4 linked regions of the Homo sapiens genome follow. The protein of the gene in region 2 purifies or fractionates together with the protein of the main gene of each other region. This does not show direct contact. Each region holds a gene or a part of one and is shown on either strand. Other genes may lie near its edges.

The links.
Region 1: the proteins of TXNDC15 (region 2) and NEK4 purify together in Homo sapiens (affinity purification with mass spectrometry; 3 studies listed by BioGRID and IntAct, with this or other methods). This does not show direct contact.
Region 3: the proteins of TXNDC15 (region 2) and TAPT1 purify together in Homo sapiens (affinity purification with mass spectrometry; 3 studies listed by BioGRID and IntAct, with this or other methods). This does not show direct contact.
Region 4: the proteins of TXNDC15 (region 2) and PIGN purify together in Homo sapiens (affinity purification with mass spectrometry; 3 studies listed by BioGRID and IntAct, with this or other methods). This does not show direct contact.

The regions. Positions count from the first base shown.
Region 1 is NC_000003.12:52,760,922-52,767,945, forward strand, and holds part of NEK4 (serine/threonine-protein kinase Nek4), read right to left. Parts: intron 5,455-7,024; coding exon 5,257-5,454; intron 5,074-5,256; coding exon 4,966-5,073; intron 2,704-4,965; coding exon 2,549-2,703; intron 16-2,548; coding exon 1-15. UniProt on the Homo sapiens protein: Protein kinase that seems to act exclusively upon threonine residues. Required for normal entry into proliferative arrest after a limited number of cell divisions, also called replicative senescence.
Region 2 is NC_000005.10:134,869,564-134,877,372, reverse strand, and holds the start of TXNDC15 (thioredoxin domain-containing protein 15 isoform 1 precursor), read right to left. Parts: upstream 3,003-7,809; 5' UTR 2,946-3,002; coding exon 2,843-2,945; intron 2,543-2,842; exon of another isoform or gene 2,241-2,542; intron 2,130-2,240; exon of another isoform or gene 1,975-2,129; intron 1-1,974. UniProt on the Homo sapiens protein: Acts as a positive regulator of ciliary hedgehog signaling. Involved in ciliogenesis.
Region 3 is NC_000004.12:16,223,448-16,230,282, forward strand, and holds the start of TAPT1 (transmembrane anterior posterior transformation protein 1 homolog), read right to left. Parts: upstream 3,025-6,835; 5' UTR 3,011-3,024; coding exon 2,812-3,010; intron 1-2,811. UniProt on the Homo sapiens protein: Plays a role in primary cilia formation. May act as a downstream effector of HOXC8 possibly by transducing or transmitting extracellular information required for axial skeletal patterning during development. May be involved in cartilage and bone development.
Region 4 is NC_000018.10:62,184,044-62,191,317, forward strand, and holds the start of PIGN (GPI ethanolamine phosphate transferase 1), read right to left. Parts: upstream 3,014-7,274; 5' UTR 2,801-3,013; intron 1-2,800. Other genes in the region: RAB11-binding protein RELCH, read left to right, coding at 3,463-3,988.

The sequences.
Region 1 (7,024 bases), on a different chromosome or scaffold from region 2:
TTTTTGGAGGTTTTTCTTTATAAAGAAGAAAAGAAAGAGTTATTATCAATATACTGAAGATTAAGGGTTTTTAGGTATATGTGGGAGTGTGTGTATACAATGAATTCCCTTACAGAACTGCACCATTTATAGAGAATAGTTTTCTAAAAATCTAAGGGGCATCCTACAAAACACCTCACCAGTAGTCTTTGAAACAATCAAGGTCATAAAAAATAAACAAAGTGAGAAACAATCACAGACCCCTGATTAGATGTACTATATCCTGGATTGGATCCTGGAACAGAAAAGAGACATTAGAGAAAAAAACTGGTGAAAGCCAAAGAAAGTCTGGAATTTAGTCAATAGTAATATTTTTCTTTCTTTTTTTAAAAAATTGAGACAGAGTTTCACTCTGTCATCCAGGCTAGAGTGTAGTGGCGTGATCTCAGCTCACTGCAACCTCCGCTGCCCAGGTTCAAGTGATTCTTGTGCCTCAGCCTCCCGAGTAGCTGGGACTACAGGTGCACGCCACCACGCCCGGCTAATTTTTTTGTATTTTTTTTTTAGTAGAGACGGGGTTTTGCCATGTTGGCCAGGCTGGTCTTAAACTCCTGACCTCAGGTGATCTGCCAGCCTCGGCCTCCCAAAGTGCTGGGATTACAGGCGTGAGCCACCATGCATGGCCAAGTCAATAGTAATATTTCGATGTTGGTTTCTTAGTTTTGACAAATGCATTAGGGTATGTAATCTGGTAATCACAGAAGAAACTAGATGAGGGGTATACAGGAACTCTCCACTCTATCTTTCCAACTTTTCTGTTTATACAAAATTATTCCAAAATAAAAATTCTATGGGAGATTGCCTCACATACGGGAGTATCAGGTTAATTTTCATTTTCAAATTTTACATGTCTGTAATAATACCACAACTGCTTGGCTAACTTTGAGAGTAAAACTGATTGGTACACTTAGTCCTGCTTATAGAATAAATGCATACAGGAATAACATCCCCAACTATTTTAGTATGTCATTTCTAAAACTGGGCTAAACCTCTGGAGAATTCAAGAGGAGCATGGAGATCAGTACACTGGAAGGCCAAAGGTCTGCTTGGTGGGAAATTATGTACACAAAAAGATGGTTCTTCTTTATTCCCTGAGGCATCTCTAGCACTGCCTCCTCTCTTTCCAAATTTAACATGCCACAAGGCAAGAGGAGAAGCCAAACAGATTGTAATAGTTTTGTCCAGCCCTAAGTCTTAGATCCTGGAACACCTGTTTAGTAAAGGTAGGATCTGCAAGCCAAAGCAAGGAATTCTCTTGGGAAGTTAATGTGAATGAAGAGGGAACTTTATGCAAGCTCTCAGAAATGTGAGCACTACTTTTTAAATATTACTATCTTACACAGTAAGATGTATAGGTTTCTCAGATAATCTCTAATTATATGATTTCTAAAACATATGCCCTCTTTTTTTTTATTATTATTTGGCTGCTCCTTGAGAACAGGACTAACTCATAGGCAGTGAGCCCAGAGTAGTGCATATGTCCTTTAAAAAAAAATTTACACTATATGTCTTAGAACCCTCTGAGGAATGTGACAGTGGTTCTCCAAATTTCTGATTTTAGCAATTAAGCAAATTTCAACATGTATTTGAAGACTGGGAGAATATGCCACGCCAAAATATGCTACTTTGGCATAAAGATTATTTTGGGCTAAGGTTCTTTAAAAAGTAAGTGCAAGCTTTGGGAGGCCGAGGTGGGCGGACCACGAGGTCGGGAGTTCAAGACCAGCCTGGCCAACATGGGGAAACCCTGTCTCTACTAAAACTACAAAAATTAGCCGGGCACGGTGGCGGGTGCCTGTAATCCCAGCTACTGGGGAGGCTGAGGCAGGAGAATTGCTTGAACCCGGGAGGCGGAGGTTGCAGTGAGCTGAGATCATGCCACTGCACTCCAGCCTGGGTGACACAGCAAGACTCCATCTCAAAAAAAAACAAACAAAAAAAAGTAAGTGCAAGAAGGGCACTCTGATCTTCCCTTTTTCTTCCAGAAAGCAGAAGATAAAACTCCCATATGAAATACGTCCTCCCTGTACCAGAAGGAAAGTAACATTCTTATTATCAAGAATGGAAAGCTGAAACTGAGAGAATTCTATAAACAGACCTTATTAAAATAATTCTTATCTTCCTTTAGCCTCTCCACCTAGTTTACTTTTCCACAATTGCCTCTCTTTGTTCAATCAAGCAAAAAGCATTTAGGTTTTGCCACTTCTTTGTATTTTTAGTAGAAGTTAGGTCTTCATTTCCTTATGAGGGCTCCTGTGTCACATAAAACTTATTCAGGTATTAAAGAAATCTACATGCTTTTCTCCTGTTAAATTATAAGTTTAATTCTCAAGCTCAGCCAAGAAACCCTAAGAGGGTAGAATTTTGCCTCCTCTACATATGTAATCATGCCATTTTATTTCTTGTTTTTAAGAAAACTCACCATTAATTCTTGCATATGAATATTACAGAAGCCACCCTCTTTCACCCCATCTATTTAGCCCAGCTATTTGCAAGGGAAGTATCTTACATCTTTGTGGCCTCCAAAAAGAAGGAGATTTGCCGCTTTATATAAGGCTGCCTCAGGATGCTCCTCACAGACGGCCTTTCTTCAGGCCTTTTGCTCAGCATTGTTCTTATCAGTTCTGCCAGCTCTGGGCTGTAATCTCTTGGCATTGGTGGCAGCTACAAATAAAAATAATATTGTAATTATGACTAATGGTCTTGTGAAACAAAGTAAAAGCTGGTAGAGGTTTCCCAATATTTATTTATAGTCATATGTCCACATAAGCAGAAAACAATCAGTATATTAGTCTACAGGAAGTGTACTGGTATCCCAGTTGTAAGATAACAAGTTGTAAAATTATAAAAGTATATCCTCCAACCCAGCAGTCCCATCTGATGACACTCTCATTCAGAAATAAGAGTATGAGTTTCCTAAAGACTTATGTATCGGGATGTTCAATGCAGTACTGTTCTTGCAGTAGTAAACAATTGGAAACATAAATGTCCCTTAGGGGATTTGTGGAATAAATTATCATGCATTCTTCTTATAAAAACTAGGGCCAGTCGCAGTGGCTTACGCCTGTAATCCCAGCACTTTGGGAGGCCGAGGCAGGTGGATTGCCTGAGGTCAGGAGTTTGAGACCAGTCTGGCCAACATGGTGAAACCCCGTCTCTACTAAAAATACAAAAAAATTAGCTGGGCGTGGTGGCATGCACCTGTAATCCCAGTTACTCAGGAGGCTGAGGCAGGGGAATTGCTTGAACCAGAGAGGTGGAGGTTGCGGTGAGCCGAGATCACGCCACAGCACTCCAGCCTGGCAACAGAGCGAGACTCTGTCTCAAAAAAAAAAAAAAAGAAAGAAAAGAAACGAAACTAGGCAGCAGGTTAAAAAATACAAGACTTGGGCCGGGTGCAGTGGCTCACACCTGTAATCTCAGCACCTTGGGAGGCCGAGGCGGGTGGATCATGAGGTCAGGAGATGGAGACCATCCTGGCTAACACAGTGAAACCCCATCTCTACTAAAAATACAAAAAAGTGGACGGGCGTGGTGGCGGGCACCTGTAGTCCCAGCTACTTGGGAGGCCGAGGCAGGAGAATGGCGTGAACCCGAGAGGCAGAGGTTGCAGTGAGCTGAGATTGCACCACTGCACTCCAGTCTGGGCAACAGAGTGAGACTCTGTCTCAAAAAAAAAAAAACTTGCAGGTACCGACTTGGAAGGATGTGTTCCTCATATATTAAGTCAAAAAAACAAGTTATGTACCATGTGAACAGCCTGATTTCAGTTTAAGAATCTGTGGGTGTGCGCGTGCGCATGCACACACACACACATGCACACACACACACACACACACACACACAGAGTTATGTCTGTATAAAGACAGGAAAAAACCAGAAAGGCCATGTACCAATTTGCTAGCAATGGTCATCTTCCAGGGAATGGGAATAGAAAGAGAAGAGAATTTCACTCCCTTCTTGTTTGATTCTTAAGTAGTGGCATTATGGGAAAATTTTACTTTTGTGTGTGTTTTTCAATATGCTTCAAATTGAAAAATTAAATAAGTTGTGGGATAGTATTAAAATCAATAGATGATTTATGGCCTTTAAAACTTAACAGTACATTGGCCAGGTGCAGTGGCTCACACCTGTAATCCCAGCATTTTGGGAGGCTGAGGCGGGCGGATCACCTGAGGTAAGGAGTTCGAGACCATCCTGGCCAACATGGTGAAACCCCGTCTGTACTAAAAATACAAAAATTAGCTGGGCCTGGCAGCATGTGCCTGTAATCCCAGCTACTTGGTAAGCTAAGGCACAAGAATCACTTGAACCTAGGAGGTAGAGGTTGCTGTGAGCTGAGATCATGCCATTGCACTCCAGCCTGGGAGACAAGAGCAAAACTCCATCTCAAAAAAAAAAAAACAAAAAAAAAAACCTTAATGATACATGGATGCCTGAATCTATAAAGGGCAACTAGCCTCATGGAACATACAAAGCCAGTCACTCTGGAGTCTATATCAGACACAATGCTTTCTGTGATTCTTAACTAGTTACTGATTGTTGTGATGATTATCAAAGGAACGACAAGTTCAAACAGAGTAAACTCATTTTAAATGTAGCTCATTGAATCATAGGCTGCTTAGAAGAAGAGACAAATAGCCTCTCAGGGCATCGGCACATCCTATGACTATAGGCATAGGTTTTCAAAAAGCCAATTCTTTTGAGCCATTAAGCTGGCTTACAGATTAATATTAAGAAATGATCCATCAATCCCTTTTCCTCTAGTCTGACCTTCCCCACAGAAGGGACCCACCATTGTTAACTATCAACCCAATCTCAATAATTACTCATTGACTCATCAAAATCATCAATGATTTTGCTAGTAGCTATTTATAAAGCTGCACTATAGAAATACTGGTCAATTAGTTCTAGATTATTCTTTACCTTTCCTTCAATAATCCGATAAACTAAAGAATTCATATCTTTTGCATTGAAAGCATGCTTCAAGGTGGCCATTTCATAGACACAGCATCCTAGAGCCCAAACATCAGACTAGAAAATAAAAACAGTAAACGGTTAAATGTCAGAATAGCTTATTTACATTTTTTTCCCTTTAAAAAAAGAAAACATTTTCCTTAAACCAATTCATAGATAATTCTCTGACTTAATTAACTTCTGAAATTACAAGCACTCTCCCAGAGACAAGGTAAGCCAGCATACAGAGCCCAATCCTACCTTATAGTTGTAGGGTTTGTTTGAGAACAATTCAGGGCTCATGTAGTAGGGTGTGCCAATGAGGGTGCTAGCCATGTCACAGTGGTTCTCTAACACTCGGGCAATTCCTAGGTCCCCTACTTTGATGATGTTTGTTCTTGTTAGGAAGACATTTTGAGTTTTCAGATCTCGATGAAGGATGTGTTTTTCATGTAAATACTGAGGAAAGAAACAAGATTTTATTACATATAAATAGACTTAATTATGTATTTATTCCTGGCTTATTATATACCATCAGCAATGGCATGAGTTAGAGTCTTTGACCGTAAAGAGTAACCAACCATACAATTCCTTATTCAACAAGCAAATACCTACCAAACATTATTGCTTTATAATCTCTAAATAAAAGGTCTAATTTACAATTTTTGAAATGAGAAAATTAAGTTCCATGTGTTGACTTACCCAGTACCCATCAAAACTGTTCCCTGGTAGCTTGACAATTATACCATTTTGGCATTACATGAATCCAGTTTAAAAATATGTTTACAAGCCGGGCGCAGTGGCTCACGCCTGTAATCCCAGCACTTTGGGAGGCCGAGGCGGGTGGATCATGAGGTCAGGAGATCGAGACCATCCTGGCTAACAAGGTGAAACCCCGTCTCTACTAAAAATACAAAAAATTAGCCGGGCGCAGTGGCGGGCGCCTGTAGTCCCAGCTACTCGGGACGCTGAGGCAGGAGAATGGCGTGAACCCGGGAAGCGGAGCTTGCAGTGAGCCAAGATTGCGCCACTGCAGTCCGTAGTCCGGCCTGGGCGACAGAGCGAGACTCCGTCTCAAAAAAAAAAAAAATATGTTTACAGGCCAGGCGCAGTGTTCAGCAGTTTGGGAGGCCGAGGTGAGCGGATCACTTGAGGCCAGGAGTTCAAGACCAGCCTGGGCAACATGGCAAAACCCCATCTCTACTAAAAAAATACAAAAATTAGCTGGGCATGGTGACGCACGCCTATAATCCCAGCTACTTGGGAGGCTGAGGCACAAGAATCACTTGAACCCAGGAGGTGGAGGTTGGAATGAGCCACGATTGTGCCACTGCACTCGAATCTGGGCGACAGTGACACTCTGTCTTAAAAAAAAAACAATGCTTACAAACTCCACTGATGGTAGGACAACTTATACAAAGTCAGACGCACAGTCCTCTCAGACCCATGAAATCCTCAGCTTAATAATATTTTCAAGTACAGCAAGAGCATTTTTATTTAGAGAAAGTATCTCAGCCGGGCGTGGTGGCTCACGCCTATAATCCCAGCACTTTGGGAGGCCGAGGCAGGTGGATCACCTGAGGTCAAGAGTTCGAGACCAGCCTGGCCAACATGGTAAAACCCCATCTCTACTAAAAATACAAAAAAAAAAATTAGCCAGGTATGGTGGCAGGCGCCTGTAATCCCAGCTACTTGGGAGGCTGAGGCAGGAGAATCGCTTGAACCTGGGAGGTGGAGGTTGCAGTGAGCCGAGATCGTGCCATTGCACTCCAGCCTAGATAACAAAAACAAAACTCCGTCTCAAAAGAAAAAAAAAAAAAGAGAGAAAGTATCTCAGAATTTAAACATGGTCAATTAATTCTGGACAAGTCTACCCAGTTCCAAAATAGTATTTCATAAACGTCTCGCTTTTGAGTTATATGCATATTAAAACACAAACTTGTAGGAACACTTATTCCATCTTAAGGAATGATGTGCTGCCCAATTCTAAAAAATAAAAAAAAGAAAACTTGTTTTGCATTCCCATCTA
Region 2 (7,809 bases):
CTTCCCCTACCCTGTGAATGCATCTGCATTCTGTAGCAGAGCTACCAGGCCCCAATGTGGCCTCTGTCTGCACTCTCACCTGTGGCCATCAGATCCCTCTAGTCCCTGATCATTTACACTCCTCCTATCCCCACCTGCCTTAGAGCCTTCCTGAGGGCTGTTTCTCTGCTGGGAAGCTTCCTCCTGCCAAATCCTTCATCCTCCTCATTCAGATCTCACCCTAAATGTCACCTCTGTAAGGACACATTCCCTGACCCTCAGACCAGGGTGGGAGGTCTCCCATTACAGTTCCCAAAAACGCCCTGGGACTCTCCTTGATGCATTTCTCAGTCTTGCAATTTTCTTAGTAATTTGTAGTTATTTAGTGGCTGCCTTCCCCAAAGGCCTGCTGCTCTAACTCACCACTGGATCCCCAGTGCTCAGCACAGTGTTTAGCATATGATGAGTGCTCAGTAAGAATTTGCTAGCTGACTGCCTAGGGAAGAGTGGCATAGGGGTATTGAAGCCAGGAGTTTGCTTCCATTCCTAGACACCTGGATAGCATTGCTACCTCCAGGTTGCTTAGTCTCTCAGGGCCTCAGCACCTGAGGCCAGCATAATCTGCCAGTGGCATCCTCTGCAGAAAAAAAAAAAAAAAAAACACCTCAGATTTTCAGCTACTCTGAGAAGAAATCAGCTGGTGAAGTTTCTTCTGTCTTCACCCCATTCATGGCCTGGCCATGATGACCAAAGACCCAAGCTGAACCCTGAATCAGCCAGGGTTCTGCCAGGAAACAGCACATTTAACTTGGGCAAGTTGAGGAGAGTTTAATGAAGGGACCACTAATGTGTAGGCTGGGTGCAGAGAAATGAAAAGCAATGGTAAGGAATTCCAAGGCCAGTAACAGTAGAGGAGGAGCCAGTTACCACTCATAGACCTTAAGAGTCTGGAGAGAGAAGTAGTCACAGAACCTTGAAACATCAAGGGTAACACAGAGGGCAGCTTTCTAGAATTCAATGCTTTCCACCGGGGGCAAAGCCAGCCTTCAATAACTTCTCAGGGAGGGAGCGGAGAGAATCAATACCCTGACCTCACTCTCCCCTCATTCCAACACAATGGAAGCAAGACGGTAGGACAGCTGGTATTTATTCCACACAGGACAGCCACACAGGGCACAGAGCACGGTGGAGGGGCTGAAACAGAAGATATCCAACCCATGCCATCCCCTCTGTGAGGCTAGCAGTTAAGTATAGTGAAAATGCAGAGGTTGGGCTCTGAAGTCAGGCAGACATGGGCTTGAATCAAGGCTCCTCAACTTCTGGCTGTATGACCTTGTCAAAGGACTTATTGGCTCTGAGTCTTAAGTTACTTCTATAAAATGAGCATGATAACATCTACTGCATATGCATTTAAAAATTACTAAGGCCAGGCACGGTGGCTCAAGCCTGTAATCCCAGCACTCTGGGAGGCCGAGGTGGGTGGATCACCTGAGGTCAGGAGTTCCAGACCAGCGTGGCCAACATGGTGGACCATCATCTCTACTAAAAATACAAAAATTAGCCCAGTGTGGTGGCAGGCACCTGTAATCCCAGCTACTCAGGAGGCTGAGGCACGAGAATCGCTTGAACCCGGGAGTCAGAGGTTGCAGTGAGCCAAGATCGCGCCACTGCACTCCAGCCTGGGCAACAGAGCGAGACTCCATCTCAAAAAAAAATAAAAATAAAAATTACATAAACCGGGAGCAGTGGCTCACATCTGTAATCCCAGCACTTTGGGAAACAGGTGGGAGGATCACTTAAGCCCAGGAGTTCAAGGCTGCAGGGAGCCATGATGGGCCACTGCACTCCCGCCTGGGCAACAGAGCAAGCCCTCATCCCTTAAAAAAACAAAAACAAAACAGTAAAGATTCCAAAAGATGATGCTCGTAAAGCACTGAGCACAGCATCTGGTACACAGTGAGCGCTTTCATTCATGGTAATTGTGTTACTATGACTCACCCTTCTCCACAACTCTCTGCTGTCCTGCCTCCATCCAGGACACCCCAGGGAAAAGAAAGACCTGCCTATTCCTGTTAAGGTCTAAATGACAAGCGAGACCGAGGGTCTGGACTTTAACAGGACTATGAGGAGTGGGGTGAAGGAGCATGAAAGTAAGGCCTCCACTCTCCACCCTCGCCATGCCTCTAGAGTGGCTGCCTTCCCTACCGGCAAGTTGGGGGTTACCGGGAGTCTCCCGTGTTTCTCGTCTGTTTTTCATGCAGGGAGCTGAGCAAGACTGGCCTCCTTAAGACAGTGGTCCAGCAGCGTGGACTCCAGACTGGGCTTTGGCGTCAGAGAGACAGGCTTCTGCCACGTATCAGAAGCGCAAACTTAGGCGGGGCCTGAGCATCTTCATCTGTGAAATGGAGACACTAAACGGAACCGATCTGACAGGGTTTGTGGGAGCATTAAATGGGATAATGATGTAAATAAAGCACGATGCACAGTTCCTGGCTCCTAATACGGCCACAACAATGTCGGTATTTGATATAATGTTATTAATAATAAATTGCTTATCACCAGAGGGTATGCCTCAGCAGCGCTTACCGCACTGTCCCTCCTGGCTACCAGCCACGGGCTGAGGGCGGCCTGAACGCGGCCCAACCACCCCCGGGCTCCCGTCCACCGGCCCTCAGCCCACCGGCCCCCTTTCGCGGGCCACCAGCGGGCGGTGCGCGGGGAGAGAAGTCGGGGAGACGCGCCCGGGGAGACGCCAAGAAGGGGCGAGTCGCGCACCGCCGGCCTTCGCGCAGGTCCAGAGCGTCGCCCGGGTGGACCTCAGCTCGCCCCATCATCTCATGCACCGCCCCCGGCCCACACTCACCCTCCACGCCGCGGACGGGAAGTCCCAGCACCCACAGCAATACTTGCCACCAGCCGAGGAGCCGCATGACGCGGGGCGGTCGTCGACCGGCAGCCGGGACCATTGCCCAGGCCGAGAGGCAATCGGCGCACGGCTACGCGAGTCGTGCTGCCAGCCGGAGGAAGGCTGGGGGAGGAGAGCCTGGGAGCGCGGGCGCGGCCCCGCGCCGCCATCTTAACACCTGGCAGCTGTGGCGGGCGCCATCTTGGAGTCGGGCGGACGGCCTCTAGCCGCTGGCCGTCGGCGCTGGACTGGAGACCTCTTTAGGAGCTAAGCGCCAGACGTTGCAGGTCGTTTTGAACTCTGCTGACCCCAGAGTGCAGAGCATGGCTCTGGCAGAGGCCCATGGCCTCCTTTCTTCCCTCGGAAGTCAGAGCTTGGCTACTTGAAGCACTGCGCCCGCCTAAGGAGGGTTTTCCACGCTTCATTCCCAGAGCCAGAAAGGCCCAGGAGCCTTCCTGTTCTAGTGTCCCATCGAGGTGCAGAAACTTTGGAGGCTGCAAATCTTCTAATCGCTTGCCTAACCTGTGCTCCCCTACCTAGGGTTGCCACATAGAATACCTGATACCCAGTTATATTTGAATTTCACATAATGAATATTTTTTACTATAACCCTTATAGTATAAGGGATATACCTTAAAACTGAGCATCCTGTAACTTCGTGACATCTGGCAACCCTAACCCTACCTATCCACTCAGGGCAGGAGAGGTTGGTTTTAACTGATTTACCTTGCAGGGCAATCTCTTTTTAATCATGGTTGGGGCCGTGAGCATCATTGGCTCTGGCTCATGGTGGAGGTGGAGCCACCTCGAGCATAAAGTAGATAGGAAAGGGCTTAGAATGAAGAAAGCATAGATGGGGAGATGAGGAACAGGGCTCTGCATTCCCAAGCAAACGCACAGAGCGGGAGTCTTAAGAGAAAATTCTTGGAATAGAGAGGATGACACCACTAATTGGGGTATTTTGCCGGGGGGCCTGCTAAAATGGAATAAGGCAAGCTTTAAGCAGCCACCAGTCAGTGCTAAATCAGTGCAGAGTGCAGCTTTTCAAACTTATGAGGTTGAAAAAATAGAAACTGATTTAAAATACATCAGTCTATTGGTTAACATAGCAATGGTAAGGGGAACCTGTGCTTTTTGGCCGCTTGGTGAATCCCAACTTCAGCACATGTGATAGTTCACAGTCAGCAGGTTATGTAACTTAAAGTTAAGTTTCTTCAGCTGTAAAGTGGAAATGACGTTATATAGAGTCTTATAGATGAAATGAGATGTAAAGTGATGAGCACAGTGTCCTGGGGCACAGGAAGCATTTCAAAGTGGTAGGCATTATTAATTGAATAATACAATTCTGATGGTGTGGCCATAGTCCCCTTATCTCTATGCCCATCAAAAAGACACTGTTAGGCCAGAAAGATGCATCATTAATCTGTCCCTGTGGATGATTCTTTTATTCTAAATACGTTGGTATGGTTTTGCTGTTGTAGATCCTCAAGTGCCATCTTGTGGGTCCAGAAGAATATGAAACAATGGACATGGATAAAAGAGCCCACAGTTCTAGAGCTTATTACTAGTCATCATTTCGCTAAGTACCTCCCTCACCCCTAACAGTGGAACAACAAACCTTTCCTTTTTAAACTATCTTTCTCATACCCCCATACATGATTTGAAGGTGCATGAAAAGCCAACAGGACAGAGCACCAAAAGGATTTATGACTAATGAAAAGGAAGCTGATCTGGATACTCCAACATGGATGCCCTGTGGTTACTACTCCTTCCTTTTTATTATCTCCTTTCCTTTCCTGTATGTGTGTTTGTTTGATTTTTTTATTTTTTGAGACAAGAGTTTCGCTCTTGTTGCCCAGGCTGGAGTGCAATGGCGCGATCTTGGCTCACTGCAATCTCCACCTCCCCGGGTTCAAGCAATTCTCCTATCTCAGCCTCCCAAGTAGCTGGGATTACAGGCATGCGCCACCACGCCCGACTAATTTTATATTTTTAGTAGAGATGGGGTTTCACCATGTTGGTCAGACTGGTCTCAAACTCCTGACCTCAGGTGATCCACCCGCCTTGGCCTCCCAAAGTGTTGGGATTACAGGCATGAGCCACTGCGCCCGGCCCCTTCCTGTGTTTTTACTTTAGCTCTGTGTTTGGGACAGATACGCTTACAGATGTTAGAATTAGATGTTAGAATTGGATGTTAGAATTGTCTTTCAATTTTTTTTTTTTTTTAGGCACAGTCTCGCTGTCACCCAGGTGCAATTGCTCAGTTATGGCTCATTGCAGCCACAACCCCTTGGGCTCAAGCGATCTTCCCACCCCGTTTTTAAATTTTTTTCTAGAGATGAGGTCTCACTGTTTGACCCAGTTTGATTTCAAACTCCTGGGCTCAAGCAGTCCTCCCGCCTCGGCCTCCCAAAGGGCTGGGATTACAGGCTTGAGCGTCTTTGAATAAATACTGTATATACCCCCTCTAATGACAACAAATGTAGTCCACAGGTTAGAATCCTTATTTAACTGTCTCACCACCAACGTGCACTTCTTTTCAGTGAGAAAACTGCCTTCACAATTGTCCTGGTTTCTATCAAATTTCTGGGGGTGAGGAAAGAAAAGCTGACATTATTCTCTTCCTTTGGCTGAAATTAAATCCGCCAAATTTGTCTTGCTATCTCAAAAGGCCTTTCTGTGAGTCTGGGACATCTTATATCAAAATGCAAAACTTAAATATATAAGTAAATAAATAAATAAAAGAATACCAGGGTACTACGGTCATTTAGAATGACTGAGGAACCAAACTGGCTCCTACTTGCCAAAGATGGGATGATTTGAGCATAAAAATGAAAAATTTCAATAGACTGAAATACACTGCATATGTTAACATCTATGAGTTCACACTGCTAACAAAATTTTTTTAAAACTAGTCGGCCGGGCGCAGTGGCTCATGCCTGTAATCCCAGCACTTTGGGAGGCCGAGGCGTACTGATCACCTGAGGTCAGGAATTCAAGACCAGCCTGACCAACATGGAAAAACCCCGTCTCTACTAAAAATACAAAATTAGCTGGGCATAGTGGCTGCATGCCTGTAATCCCAGCTACTCAGGAGGCTGAGGCAGGAGAATCGCTTGAAACCGAAAGGCGGAGGTTGTGGTGAGCCGAGATCACGCCATTGCACTCCAGCCTGGGCAACAAGAGCGAAATTCCATCTCAAAAAAAAAAAAAAAAAAGAGAATGTAATTGGATTACTTGTAAATCAAGGATAAATTCTCGAGCGGATGGATACTCCAATCTCCCTGATATGCTTATTTCACATTGCATGCCTGTATCCAAACATCTCTGGGCCAGGCGCGGTGGCTCAACCCTGTAATCCCAGCAGTTTAGGAGGCCAAGGTGAGCAGATCACTTGAGGCCAGGAGTTCGAGACCAGCCTGACCAACATGGTGAAACCCCATCTCTACTAAAAAATACAATAATTAGCCGGGCATGGTGGCCCATGCTTGTAATCCCTGCTACCCAGAAGGATGAGGCAGGAGAATCACTTAAAACCCGGGGGGTGGCCGGGTGCGGTGACTCAGTCCTGCAATCCTAGCACTTTGGGATGCTGAGGCTGGTGAATTGCCTGAGCTCACGAGACCAGCCTGGGCAACACGATGAAACCCCGTCTCTACTAAAATACAATAGAAATTAGCCAGGCATGGCGGCATGTGCCTGTAGTCCCTGCTACACGGGAGGCTGAAGCAGGAGAATTGCTTAAACCCGGGAGGCAGAGGTTGTAGTGAGCCAAGATCAGGCCACTGCACTCTAGGCTGGGCAACAGAGTGAGACTCCGATTCTTAAAAAAAAAAAAAAGAATCCCGGTTGGGTGGAAGTTGCAATAAGCCGAGATCCTGCCACTGCACACCAGCCTCGGCAACAGAGCAAGACTCTGTCTCAAAAAACAAAAACAAAAAGAAACTCATTTATTCCATAAATATATACACCTACTATGTACTGGCAATTTTTTTTTCTCTTTTCTTTTTCCTCGAGACAGAGTTTCACTCTTGTTGCCCAGGCTAGAGTGCAATGGCGCAACCTCGGCTCACCGCAACCTCTGCCTCCCGGGTGCAAGCTATTCTCCTGCCTCAGCCTCCCGAGTAGCTGGGACTACAGGCATGCGCCAGCACGCCTGCCTAATTTTGTATTTTTAGTAGAGACAGGGTTTCTCCATATTGGTCAGGCTGGTCTCAAACTCCCGACCTCAGGTGATCCACCCGCCTTGGCCTCCCAAACTGCTAGGATTACAGGCATGAGTCACTGCACCCGGCCAAAAAATTTTTTTAATAATTTAAAAATTAACAAAAACAACAACAAAAACTACCAGAGATAATAAGTGAGTTTTGGAAGGTTGCCAGATAGAAGGTCACTATGCAGAAAACAGACTATATTTATATATGCTACCAAAAATCAAAAAAAACTTCTATTCACAGTAGCATCAAAAATAATAAAATATCTAAGACTCAATTCAACAAAAGAAGTTCAAGTTTTATACACTAAAACATAAAAAACACGGCTGAAAGAAATCAAGACAGATGAAAATCAGTGGAGAGACATACTATGTTCTGGATTGAAAGACAATATTGTTATGATGGCAATTCTGTCCAAATTGATCTATAGATACAACTCCTAAAAAAATCCTAGAGATTTGTAGAAATTGACAAACTGATCCTAAAATCTATATGAAACAACCAAAATGATTTTGAAAAAGTAGGAAGACTTACATTACCTGATTTCAAAACTTTAATTAAACTACAGTAATCAAGACTGTGGTATCGGCATAGGTATTAGCAGACAGATCACCAAATTAGACAAGTTAGCCCAGATATACACCTACACATCTACAGTCAACTGATCTTCAGTAAACATGACAAAGCAATTCCAGATGGAAAGGATAGCCA
Region 3 (6,835 bases), on a different chromosome or scaffold from region 2:
AGTTCAAGGCCAGTAACCACATATGCAACAAGGAAATACACAATGACCATTCTGAGAGAGCAAATAAAAACAGGAATGATGAGTGGGATTCCCAATTCTAACTATGTTAAAAGGTGTAAGTACTCGCATCTGAGACATGCGTCAGCCTATTGCCAGGCTAAATATAAGTCAGAACGGGAGTTCTGAGAACGAAGTGATGAGGAAAAGAAAGCTTAGACTTAATGGAGACACATGTTTAGTATAATACAATATAGAGCATATACAGCTATTCATACAGACAAATATACATATCTAGTTTCTAAACATATAAATCAACAAGGAGAGATATAAAACAAAAAATGAACCTCAGACACCACGTTTTATTTTATTCAGATGGAAAGAGTTTGGATAAGTACCTAATATGTACATTCATTTAGGGAATTCTAGGCTGTTGGGACTGATCAACAAATGTCTTACCTGTAGGAGCCCTAAATTCCTTGTGAGAAATGATAAAGGGAACTTTGGAACTGACTGATGGTTCAGCCACCAAGACACTAAGATTATGACTTTCAAAAAGAAAAGCCAAAGGTTGCCTTAACTTGCAGGGGGATCTAGATCTCAAGGGCAGTGGTGCTAGACTCTCAGAGGCACACAAGAATATAAAAAAATCAACAAGTAATACCTTAAGTCCGAGCATCTAGCCGTGGAGGACTAGTTTGATTCAGGGAGAAATGCTATCCAAATGACTCCAGGTGCTGCCACTCAAAGGCCCTCTGACCCAGGCCAGCTCCTAGGGAATCGTTTTTAAAAATTCTTAAAAGGAGGGGAAGGAAGGATTACAGAGCAGGGGAAGAGGGCAGCGCTAGACTTAGCAGCCTGGGCATTGAAGAAGGACTAAAATAATTGTTTCTAGTGGGGAAACCTCTAACAAATATGGTTATCGGAGCTACAGACTGGGTGCTAGCAGTGGCAGGAGCTATGTGACTAGCAGAGCAGGGACACCAGGGGAAAAGAAGGAGGGGCTTATGTGGAGGCTCAGAGAGAACACTGGCCAGTGGCTCCAGCTGAAATACTCCTGGAATTTGGAATTCTCACCTAAATCCTGATCGCCAAGGCTAGTGTGACTTGGTAAAGCAGGAGTGGCCACTGACATCTCCTCACACAAAATCAATGGAACTGGGGAAAGAACAAGGACTACCCCAACAGCTAAACCTGGAGGCATCTCCCTGATAATGACTTCCTGCAACTATGGGTTAAAAAAAATCCAGCCTTAAACATGGTGAACCATGTTGGTGAAGAATGGATACGTGGTATAATGAAGTCCATGGAAGTCCAGGTATCCAGTCCCAGAAAAAGCCAGGGAAGAAGTGTTAAGTGATACTGCAAGCTCAAGATCTGTGCTCATCAATAGGCTTCAAACAACTTCATTTCCTCTCCACGCAAACAACAAAAAAAGGCTTTTAAAATGGTGGCTTTCCTGCAACTGAGAAATGTTTTAAAGAAAGTATAGTGAAGCCTGGCTACATCTATCTCTATTTACAACAGAGTGCTTTTAATATTCAAGTCTAAGTAAGTAAACAGACAGTTGAGAGATTTGCTATTTTGTCTTACTGAGATCCTGCCAATGAAGAAAGTAAATACTCTTGAAAGCAAATGTTTAACTGAGAACTAAACCAAATAAAGTATGGTTGAGAATTTTTAAGTGGTTAATTGAAAAAGACCAAACAAGACCGTCTGTAATTTTCCAAAAATATAGACTGCTTCAAATAGAACCTACGTCCAGTTCTGGGAATCAGCAAATCAATTAGAATCGCATCTGATCAACTTTATGCCCCTTAAGTAGTTTTAAAATTTCAGTACTCAAGTACAATCAATGATGTAATCAGCCTCACAACTTAGTTATTTGCATGAACTTCAGGAAATAACGGCTAACACAGCCCCTTTTGGACAACAGAAGTAATTTTTTAGTTGGAAGAAATTTAATGGAGTTATGGTTCAGTTGCTGTTTACAGCTTGAGAATTAAAACGTTGGGTTCACTCTATATTCAAGAAGACATCCATCTCAAAACCTTTTTTCATTTAAAACTAATCTGTAACTGCAATATGAATACAAATGCAAGTTTTAAAAATTCTTTTAAAATGAGAATAAAAACCTACAGCTTATAGAAACTGTAACATTGTAACAATACGTTTAAAACTGGTCATTGAATGTAGGATTCATAAGTACACATTTTCTCATCTAGTAATTTTTTTGGCATAAGTTTCAGTTCAGGAAAAGTTCAGATGCAACATTTTATGGAGTGTTAAATATTTCTGTACTGGGCAAAACTACTGAACTTCATGGTCACTACCACACCGTCAGCTGTCTGTGAAAAATCTACTTGCAGGGCAAGTTAACAGGTTTCTATGGCTCAAGTTTGCTTAAAATACAGAACAAAAAAAGTCACCTTGGCATGAATATAATTAAGAAATCAGCCGTGTGCTTCTCACGTTTGGGCTCCGAGACGTGGGAGATGCCCGCTAACCTAAGACCTTCCGAGGGCGATGCAAGGACCCGGACAGAACTTTCCCGGCCGCAGACCCCTTCTAGGGCACACCTGGCCTGGCGCGGCCGCGGGGGCCTCGGGGCTGCGCGCGCAACCCGCCCGAGGAACTGTCAACGGCCGCGGAGCCTCGGCAGCCTCGGCGGCTCCGCGCGCCCACAGCCTGGGGAGCCCCGGGAGGCAACGGCAGCCGCGCGGCTCGGGGGCCGGGGTTCCAAGGCGCCCCCGCCGCCCTCGGTCCCCAGTCCGCCCCTCGGAGCCCGCCACGGCCTAGCGCCGCCCGCCTCACCTGTGCGGCCCCGGCGCCTCTCCCGCCGCCGGTCGCTCTCGTAGAAGCCCAGCGTCTCTGTGAGCTGAGGCGCCGGCGGGGGCCCCTGTCCGCCGCTGCCGCCCGGCTGCTCCGCCTCGCCGCGGCCGTCCCGCTGCGGGCCGTCCACGCCGCCACCGCCGCCTTCTCCCGGAGCGGCCGCGTCGCCGACGCCCGCCATGTTCCGAGCACAACAAACTGTCCCCGCCGCCTCCCTCCAGCCTCTGCCTCCGGCCGGCCCCCTCCCCGCCTCGCCCCGCCCCTCGCCGGAGCCCGAGCCGCCGCCGCCGCCGCCGCCATCCGCGGCCCGCCGACCGGCGCGAGCCATTGGCGTCAGCGACGCGTGTGAGGCCGCTGCCGCCGCCGCCGCCGCCACGGTAGCCGCCATCTTCTTCCTGCCCTCGCCGTGGCGGGCGACGGTTTCTCGCGCCGTGGCTGGCTCGGCCGGCCGGGGCACCGCGCCGGGCTCCATGCAGCCGGGCTGCGCGGTCCCGCAGAGCGGGCGCCTCCGGGGCTCGAGTCGGGGACCCGGCAGGAGCGGGCCGGGGATGGCGGCGGCGGGCGGCGGGTCGGCCGTGGAGCCCCGGAGAGGCGGCCGCCACCACCGCTGCCCGCAGTCTGCGAGGTGTCCGGCGGTCCGCTCAGGGCCTCTTTTGCAGACTCGGTGCCCGGAGTGCGCCGGCGCCGCCCGCCAGGTCTTGGCACTGCTGGCGCGGCCGCGGCGGCGGGGGCCCGGCTCCAGATCACCGACCCCCACGAGCGCCGGCCCTGCCTGCCCGCTATTTTGGTTCCATCTCTTCTGCATATTTATGCTTGCCTGTTACATTCCCTGGCCTCTGAGTGTCCTTTGGCAGTTTCCAAAGCATTTGGGCAAGAAGGAGCTTGGGCAGCTTCACAACAGGTGGGGACGCGCAGGGGAGGGGCCGCGGCCGGACCGGCAGAGTTTCAAGGGCTGGCGCGCCGGCGGACTTTCCACACTGTCTTTCGGGACTGGGGTTAGGAGACAGCCCTTGGCCACCACTGTGTCCTTACTTTGTCGCTTTACTTGGGGCTGGACCTCCCCTTTCCAGCTCTGGCGTGTGACCCCGCAACGAGCGTGGTGTCGAGACCACCACCAGCTGGGGCGGTGGGAGCGAAGGTGCCCCAGGCTCGGGGAAGGTGGAAACCTTTTCCCCGCTCCCCAAGTGATTGTTGCGCGCTCCGGTGAGGGGACAGTGGTACCTCGATTTCCCGTGTGCCAGCTTCGGGACTCAGCTGTGCTTTTGTGTCTCTTTGATTAGCAAAAGCAAAACGAATTCCTCCCCGAACACTAAGCTTCCTGGAAACTTCCCTAGACCTAAACTTGAGAACCGCATATAAATGGGCCTTGAGGGTTCTGTCGTCAGTAGCGGGTTACGTGATTGCAAACGAGCAAGTTTAAAACGGAGTGGGCTTTGGGCTGCAGAGCCGCCTGGCATTCTGACAGCTGAGCAGGAGGCAGAGGTGAGAGTCCAAGATGGACTAAAAATGTCCCAGCAGCTGGGAGCCCAACCTCGGCCCAACCTCGTTGAAAGGAGGAACATTCGGTGCAGCCGTCGGAACCTTATTATTTATGAAAGGGGACAGCTCACAGGATTACATTTTTCTAAGCCAATCCTGTGACCATCCTCCATGAAATTCTCTATTTTGGTTGCATGTGGTCAAAACTGAGCCTCACTGAAACAATTGAAAACAAATACTCCCGACAAATCTTAAGAATCGTTTTGAAAATCAAAAGGTGGGGAAAATGTTGTGGCTTCTGAGCTTTCTTCAGCCCATATTCTATTATTCTCTGATGTTTTATGGTGTAAAATCATACCCATTCCATTATGTATTGATTGTCAAGAAGGAAGTAGGCTTTTATTGCTATTTTTATGTCAGTTTCCATTTACTGTCTCACCACATTTATTGGGTTATTGCCTTTGCCTTTGACTCAACAGGAGCTGGAAGGGTAGGAATCCCAAATTCTGTTGCCTAAGGCAGCCAGTTGTCAGAATGGACTTTCCTCATTTTCTATTATGAGGCCTGAGGAAAGACATTCAGTTCCAAAGGCTGTGCCTATCCTTTTAAATAGAAGAGAGAGGGCCCGGCACGGTGGCTCACGCCTGTAATCCCAGCAGTTTGGGAGGCCGAAGGGGGCGAATCACGAGGTCAGGAGTTCCAGACCAGCCTGGCCAACATAGTGAAACCCCGTGTCTACTAAAGATACAAATATTAGCCGGGCGTAATGGCGGGCGCCTGTATTCCCAGCTACTCGGGAGGCTGAGGCAGGAGAATGGCTTGAATCCGGGAGGCGGAGGTTGCAGTGAACCGAACCGAGATCGCGTCGCTGGACTCCAGCCCGGGCGACAGAGTGAGACTCCGTCCCAAAAAAAAAAAAAAAAAAAAAAAAAAAAAAAAAAAAAAAAAAAAGAAAAGAAGAAGAGGAAGCAGCCGTGCCAAAAAAAAAAAAAAAAAGAAGAGGAAGCAGCCGTGCCGAGGCTAGGTACTGCCTAAAGAAGCGGGGGAACAAATTGGAAATGTGGGAATGCGAATGTGGGCAAGTTGAGGAACTTGTAGCTTCTCGTCGGTTGAATCTTTTCACTGAAGCTGCTTTATTATATCTGACATGTGAAACTACACAATTTCAAACAAACCCATATTGAAGTCAACATACAAAAAAGCATTTAAAAAACAACCATTAGTAAAAATAATTTTTTCAGTTAACGCTATTCTTCCCTTGTATAGGTGTTGATAATCATATAATCAAATAGCTTATTGCATATGGAGAGTTGTTTTCTTTGAGTTAATTCAACGTATTGCAACTTAGTTAGAATCCAGGAAAATAGTATTTTCAAATGTGTATTTGGAATCTTCAAAATACTAGGTTACAAATTACCTTAAGAGATATTTATGCAGCATAGAAGAACCAGCAGTTCTCAGAGGAAGATAAATAGTTAAAATATCATAATGCACTTTATATCAGTTGTAAAAAGAAAAATACAGGCTTAGATTTATGGTATTACCGTTAGAAAAACAATATGAGTATTTAAGAAACATAGCAACCCTAGCCATTAAATAGGCATCAAATAACATTCTGAATTAAGTTATAAGATAAAACCAAGATTTGGATGACAATGACAATATTGTCCATCATTGTTATCCAAATCCTGGTTTTATCTTATAACTGGTTTTAGGGGCAATTGTAGTGAATTGCCCCTAAAAGATGTTTGAAATTCGTTTCATACACTTTTCCTGAATCAACTTAAGTATTGATTTCACAAACAATAAGATGGTGTGCCGTAGCATGTCATCGCACTAGAAAGAAAAAAAGTACTCCACCAGTGGGAAATAATTTCAGCAGAGGAAAGTGATGAATATTGGATGTGTGTTTAGAAATCAGAGGTTGATAAAGTCTTAAGATTGCTATATGCACTATGAGGCTAATGTATTTTGAAAATTGCAAAACAATATTTTTTAAACAACAAAAATTTGGTGAGTAGCATACGCAGACTTCAAAAATAAATTGCGTAACTTCATATTTCAGTAATTAAAGATTTAACAATAGTGATTTTGTGGCTAAACAAAATATACTGAACCCATTATGTATAAACCATGGATTCAGAGCTCCAGAAAATTATCTTAATGAGGCATATAAACTCTTTTTGTTTAATGTCCACACCAAATCATTATGGTCTGCCATTTCATGAAATAACAAGTTTTAAAATAAGTGATGTTTTTTAGTTTGTATATCTATATTCTTTTCTACCAGGTATAGCACAGTGTAGTACAAGGGCCTACAGTTACAAGCCTTGGGAAAGATACTGTTTTGGCCACATATTTCAGCTATGTGACCCTGGAAAGAGGGTCTCAGAGGGCCACTGTGGCCCTCAGTGTCTTTTCATTGGTAAATTGGGGCAACATCTTTTGTATAATGAAAGCTGAAAAAAATAACGATTTTCCTTTTATTCTCCCTTCCTTTCATTTAGGCTGTAGTTTTCACTTTTTA
Region 4 (7,274 bases), on a different chromosome or scaffold from region 2:
CAAACACATAACTATTAAAATTTTAAAAAGATATATGCATGTACCAATACAAGTTATCTAGTTTATCTGTGGATGTTTACCACACACTGAAAAACAATAAAACATGAGGTATTACTAAAACCTCAAGTCAACCAAAACTTGCATTCAGAATATTACTTGTGGTTCTTTTAAGACTATTAAAACCTAAAATAATTTTTTAAATACTAAAATGATTGACGTGCTTTGAAAAAAGGCATCTTTTACATCTTCATTGCTAAGGCACAAGCTTTAATAACTATCATTAGTCAGATGAAACATTAGTTGTAAGGGCCTAGATTAATGAAAATCTTACTAAGTAGAAAGGAAATTTCCCAACACTATTAATAATACATTATTATAAGTAGTGATCGGTAATTTTTAATATTCCAGTGTGTGTTACTTATACATTATTCACGAATAACCAAACCTCTGTGTATTGTGGAAAAGAAAAGTACATACTGGGAAGACTGGGCAGTTGATTTCTAATGGGCTTACAAGATCAAACACACAAGTTCATGGTTATAGGATAGGAGGCAGAAATAGAAGCAGAAAACCACAGATTTGTATGGGAAGAATTCCTCTACATGCAAGTTCTTACAACTCTGAGGAAACATTTTAAATCTATTTTCAACTTGTGTTTTAGAACTGAGACCCCAAATTAAAGATACTCCCTTCAGCCCTACTGACTTAATTGCTTTTTCAGGCTTGCACTGCCAAAACGATTGATATTAGTTTTATTTTTAAACACTTGTCAAATGTTCTCAACACATACTAATATTTCAATAATTAATAAGTGACCACAGTAATAGTTATTGTGTAGCAGGTACCAGGCACTGGGACAAGAACATTCTCAATTCTGTGTACTTTCCTTATCCCCTTTGATAGACGAATGCAAGTGAGGCTGAGAAGTTAGGTAACTTTTTCAAGGTCTCACAATAAATAATGAGTAGAATTGGGATCTGAACTTAAGCTTTTCTATCTTATAAGCATAATCCTCTTCAGGAATCCTAAATGCAGGAGATTTCTCAATTTCCCAATCATGGAGATGGAAATATTGTATATAAACAATCCATTTCTAATCATGCCCTTCCCATGCCATTCACTAATCCTCCATTCCTGGATTCCAGAAATTGGTTCCATTTTAATCTCTCTGGAAAATCCAACTAAAATACGGATCAGCAATCCCTTTTGCTAAGAAATCTCTAACAGGATACAGTATTTGCCATTTCAATTCTATTTGGGGGGATTTTTTTCCCCATGTTTTACTTTTAATATATGGCACAGAAAACTATTTATCATTAAAACATTGGGAACTAATGTCCTATAAAAAAATAGTTTAAATTCTTGGTACTTTTTTTTTAAACTTCTAGCAAAAATAAAATTTTAAAAACCCAAATCCCCATTCAAATGAAAATTTTAGTTTATTGAGCCTGGGTATATTGAAATTAAAGCCTACTCTTAACTGTTGGCATACTTTTACATGTAAACCAATAACCTGACCTAAGGTTATGTAAGAATCGTCTATTTTAATTTTTCCATGGAGCTAACGGGAGATACTTTACTGTGGAATGTTTACTACACACTGAATGTAATATGTCACTTACCTGTACACTAAGAAAGGAAATCTAAAGCCTGGAAAAGTGGTCATTTGTGTGTGAAAAAAATAGGAGCCATAAGAAATAGCAGTCTAATTGTATTGACTGGAAATTCCTTTACCTTTTCAGATCATAATCAAGGAATGACATAAAAGATAAACGTTGATCTTCTAAACTTAGGATATGTACTTTATATGCTAACATTTCATCAAAAAAATCAAAACTCTCTGAAGCATTCAACTTTTAAAATAGTTCTAAGTTCCAAAACCTTGATTCTAGCCTGCATGAACGAGTCAGAAATGTTGCAGGAGACAGTGGATAAAGAATCGTTTGGGACATAAGAGAAATGATGTTAATTCCTTTGACTCCTTATTAGCGGAATTGATTTTTTTTTTTTTTTTTTTTTTTTTTTGAGACGGAGTCTCGTTCTGTCGCCCAGGCTGGAGTGCAGTGGCGCGACCTCGGCTCACTGCAATCTTCGCCTCCGGGGTTCAAGCGATTCTCCTGCCTCAGCCTCCTGAGTAGCTGGGATTGCAGGCTTGCGCCACCACGCCCAACTAATTTTTGTGTTTTTAGTAGAGAAGGGGTTTCACCATGTTGGTCAGGCTGGTCTCGAACTCCCGACCTCGTGATCCGCCCGGCTCGGCCTCCCAAAGTGCTGGGATTACAGGCGTGAGCCACCGCGCCCGGCGTGGAGCTGATTTTATAACAACCACTCTTGGCTTAAGTTTACTTATCTGTCTACTGGTGAGACAGCATTAGATATTCTGAAGGGTCCCTGTTGTGTAAATCGTGTATTAAATCCTAAGCGTTTATTGAGTACCTAACAATTTGTTTTCCAACTCGACGATGTTCCCAGATCCAGGCAAATGCCAACCTCAGCGTTCCCTTTTCCGTTTAGTCTCTCCAGCCCCCGTCCCCACCCACAGGCAGGACCACCTCCGGGGCTGAGAAGTCGTGCTGTCGCTAGGCCTCCCGAGTGTGCAAGCATGTGGCAGAGAAGGGAAAAGAAAGGAAGTCACATTCCGACTACAGGCCTGGGCACTTGCTATCCATGGGGACAAAATGTCACCACTGGCAGCAAATAGCGAGAAAAAGTGCAGCGCAGTAGGGAAACAGCGCGTCCGCGGGCGCGACACCACAGTTTGGGCGCCGACACCCTCCGCGCACTGGTCCCTGAACTTTACCTGGAGCTTATCCCGGTCAGGCCTGATCTCGAAAACGAGGGCTCCTCAGCGCGAAGGCAGGACCCAGCTCCATTAAAGCTCTCGGGCAGTGGTCCCCTCTACCCACTGAAGCGATAGCCGGGAGGGTATTCCTAAGCCACCACTACAACCACCCCTCAATTCCGGAACGCCCCCAATACCTGCCCGGCCGCTGCTGCTATCGCGATAATTCTCGGGCCAGTCTCCCGTCAGTCCGCTCCACGCCTTCCTTCTCTGACCAATCATGGAGGAGTCGTGGGTGGAGTTTTGCTTTTGAGCGGAGAGCGGGGCCTTCAATCTTTGCTATCTGGCGCTGGGAATGGGCGGAGCTGAAGTGGGCTGGGGCGGGGCTGGGGCGGGGCTAGATCGGGGAGAGGGGCAGGGGCACGCTCCAGTTCTCGCGAGACTGGAGACCAGGAAGACGCCTGCAGAGCCGGGCTGCTGGTGCAGCAGAGGCTGAGGCATCAGGTGCAGCTGCATCCGGATCTCCTGCCTTGGAGCGTACTCCTTGTCTCTAAGTCGGGAGGCAGGACGTGGTCAGGCCGGGGCTGTGGAGGTGCGCTGTGTCCCCTGAGGCCTAGAGGATTCGGGCTGCGGCCCGTCGGAACCAGTCAGGGAGGCGCCCACACTCCTGACAGGATAAGATGGCGGCGATGGCGCCTGGAGGTAGTGGCAGTGGTGGCGGCGTGAATCCATTTCTCAGTGATTCGGATGAGGACGATGACGAGGTAGCTGCAACAGAGGAACGGCGGGCAGTACTTCGGCTGGGCGCCGGAAGTGGCCTAGATCCTGGCTCTGCGGGCTCGCTGTCGCCACAGGATCCCGTGGCCTTAGGAAGCAGTGCGCGGCCAGGGCTCCCTGGGGAGGCGTCGGCGGCTGCAGTGGCCCTGGGGGGCACCGGGGAGACCCCGGCCCGATTATCAATTGATGCGATCGCTGCTCAGCTGTTGCGCGATCAATACTTGCTGACCGCCCTGGAGCTGCATACCGAGCTGTTAGAGAGTGGCCGGGAGCTGCCTCGGCTGCGCGACTACTTCTCCAATCCAGGCAACTTCGAGAGGCAAAGTGGAACCCCGCCGGGGATGGGGGCGCCAGGGGTCCCTGGAGCAGCCGGCGTTGGGGGCGCTGGAGGTCGGGAACCGAGTACAGCGTCGGGCGGGGGACAGCTCAGTAAGTGGACGCAGCCTGTCACACTCCGGCAGGGTATTTGGGATTGTACGGAGTTACTGTAGGGGAGAGGGGGTATTTCTGCGTGGGTCCCGATAGGGACATTTTAAGGAACGAGAGTATTGGGGTGGGGGCGCTCTTTTGCGGTGGAAGCAAGAGGATCAGGCAATGACTGTTCTCTCTGCCTGCTTCCAACCCTTGGCTGGTGTTGCACTTGGCTCCTGGCTCCCCTACTGGTGTCAGTATCTATAAAATATCAAGAGTTTCTAGTTCACTGGCTATTACGGGACTCCAGAAGGTTCCCTTTTATACTAGTTTATTGCTTTAAGCATTTTCCTTTTTCTCCAGTTACCTGAATCACACTACCAGGAAATAGTGTTACCTGAATTGCCTGCAGTAGTTCTTTGAGTCTGAGCCAGGAGAGAAAGAATAGGACACACTGCTGCTGTCTCCGAAAAGTCAGATGTACTTAAGACCCTTTGTCTTTGGGACGACTTTTTCACCGCCAAAATTGGGTTTTCTGCTGCACAAAATTTGTTCTGTTGAGATAAAGTTGATGTAATTCAGTTTCAATGCCTTAATTTAAGTAATGTCCAAAATTACAGGAAATCCAAGGAGCAAGGCAGACAGGTTCTACCAGCAGTCTGTCTCACCATCCCACCACCTTGCAGGCTTTTCTCTTTGCATTAGATAGGAATTGACCTTTTTACCTTGGAATGATTTTTAGCAGCATAGAGTAATCGTTTACCCCATATATTCGTAAGCATCTCTTATGGCTTGAAAACTTACTGTCAAAGATGTAGTGTACTGTATGTAGGATTCCCAGTGTCTCCCTTTTGGGAGGTATCTTAAATATTCCCTTACTAATGTATGGAGATGTTTTAGTATGAGGCCATATATTAATTCTATATTAACAAGTATTCATATAGAATTTTTAAACTGCAGCCTAATTGATTTTTTTTTAATCACTATGCTTTTGAATAGTGCCAGAGACTTAAATTGCCAAACGTAGACGTGGTGGAAGCTTAGGGAGTGCATTTTCTATCAAGGTGAATCTTAAATATATTTCCCCCTTGGATATGGGATTTTCTCAGTAGTTATAATTTCCTTACCCAATATGTAGGATAATCTTCTTTTTCGGGAAAAGATTTTCTCATTGCTGACCTTTAAGACTATAAAATGAGACAGTAGTGTAACAAAATTGTTATGTGTGGTGGTGGGTCTTTTTTTGTTTTTTTTTTTTGTTGTTTTTTTTTTTTGGTTTTTGTGTTATTTCTAAGATTTCTAAATTATCTCATGATTTTTCACCAGACAAGGTCTAGCTAAGATGTCACCTTTGTACATGCTTCCTCCAGGCTTAGGTAGTTGCTTGGTTTCTTTCATTGTTAACACTTTCAAACCTCCATCATAGCCTTTAGCCCGTTTGTATGTGATTGTTGACAATACCATTTTTCTCCATTGGTCAGTTCTTCAGAGACATTTTTATAATAAATTTCTCACACTTTGCTCAGTCCCTGGCTGTTGATGAACATAACTGAATTGTATCTGCTGTGTTTTCAACCGTATTAATACAGTGAAATGGATTATTCCTTAGTTGGTAACTTTATTCATTTAATTTTAAAGAATTTCTTGACCTTTTCACCCTGTCTTATTAGGGCTATCATAGCATTGTTTCTAGTGAAAATTCCTCCTTGCAAACTTTTTGTATTGAAAGAATTATAATTGAGCTCATTAAATAGTTTAGCAGTGTTTTAGAGTAAAACCTTACTTCTAAGTGCCTTTGCATTATACATTTTTATACTTTCTTGAAATAACTAGAGTCTTATGATCAAATATCACAATTAAATATTCATGTGCACCTGTGCTTTTCTATTATCCTCATTTATTTGTACCTGTTTTAGGTACTGGATATATAAGTGTTTGTGTTTGTCTCTATGTGTGTGTGTACACATCAAGTTTATTAAATTTTTACTTAATACTAAGCAAATGAACAACAGGACAAAAAATTCAAAATTATCCATAATCCCACCAATGGTATTTGCTTTTCCTGTCTTTAATGGTAGTTGCCTTACCTGTCTTTTCTGTGCATGTGTTTTAAAAAACAAAAAATGGATTAAACTGTTTAACATAGTCTTATACAGGCACTATACTTTTTAGCATCAACTTGGATGTAAAATTTGCATACAGTAAAATTTACACGTTTTAAGTGTGTGCAGTTTGGTGAGTTTTGACAAATCAGTCACTACCACAATTAAAATACAGAACATCGGCAGGGTGCAGTGGCTCACGCCCGTAATCCCAACACTTTGGGAGGATGAGGCAGCCAGATCACGAGGTCAGGATTTCGAGACCAGCCTGGCCAACATGGTGAAACCCCTTCTCTACTAAAAATACAAAAATTAGCTAGGCGTGGTGGTGGGCACCTGTAATCCCAGCTACACGGGAGACTGAGGCAGGAGAATTGCTTGAACCCAGGAGGCAGAGGTTACAGTGAGCCGAGATCCCACCACTGCAGTCCAGCCTGGGCGACAGAGCAAGACTCCATCTCAAAAATAAATAAATAAATAAAAGTAAATAAAATAAAATACAGAACATTTTTATTATCCCCAGAATTCCTTCATTCAATATCCTTACTTCCATCTAGACCACCACTGATCACTTAGAACAGAATTTCTCAACCTGGGCCTGGGTACTTTCAACATTTTGGGCCTGGTAATGCTTTGCCGTGGCTGCTGGCCTGTGTATTATAAAATGTTTAACAGCATCCCTGACCTCTACCCACCAGATGCCTTTAGCAACCACCCCCATACCTATGCCACCCCAGTTATGACCACCAAAAATGTCTCCAGCATTGCCCAGGGAAGGGGAGGGCATAATTGCCCCAGTTGAGAACTACGTCTTTAGATAAGTTTTGCCTGTTCTAAAATTCGATATAAATAGAATCATAGAACGTATTTTTTTGTGTATCTGCCTTCAGCATGTTTTTAAAAGTCATCTATGTCTTTGTGTGTATTTCTAGATCATTCCTTTTTGGTTTTATCCCCAAAAGGGGGGGATAAAAAATTTGTGTCTTTTAAGACATTTGTGTTTTTTCCAGTTTTGTGTTATTGTAAAGAAAGCTCCCATTTACGTCTTTATGAGAAACTGCCAAACTGTTTTCCAAAATGGACCATTTAAAATTTCCACCACCAATGTACAAGAGTTCCAGTTTCTGTACATCTCCTAAACATTTGGTATTTTTGGGCTTTTTAATCTGTCATTTTAGTGAGAATGTAGCAGTGTCTCATTG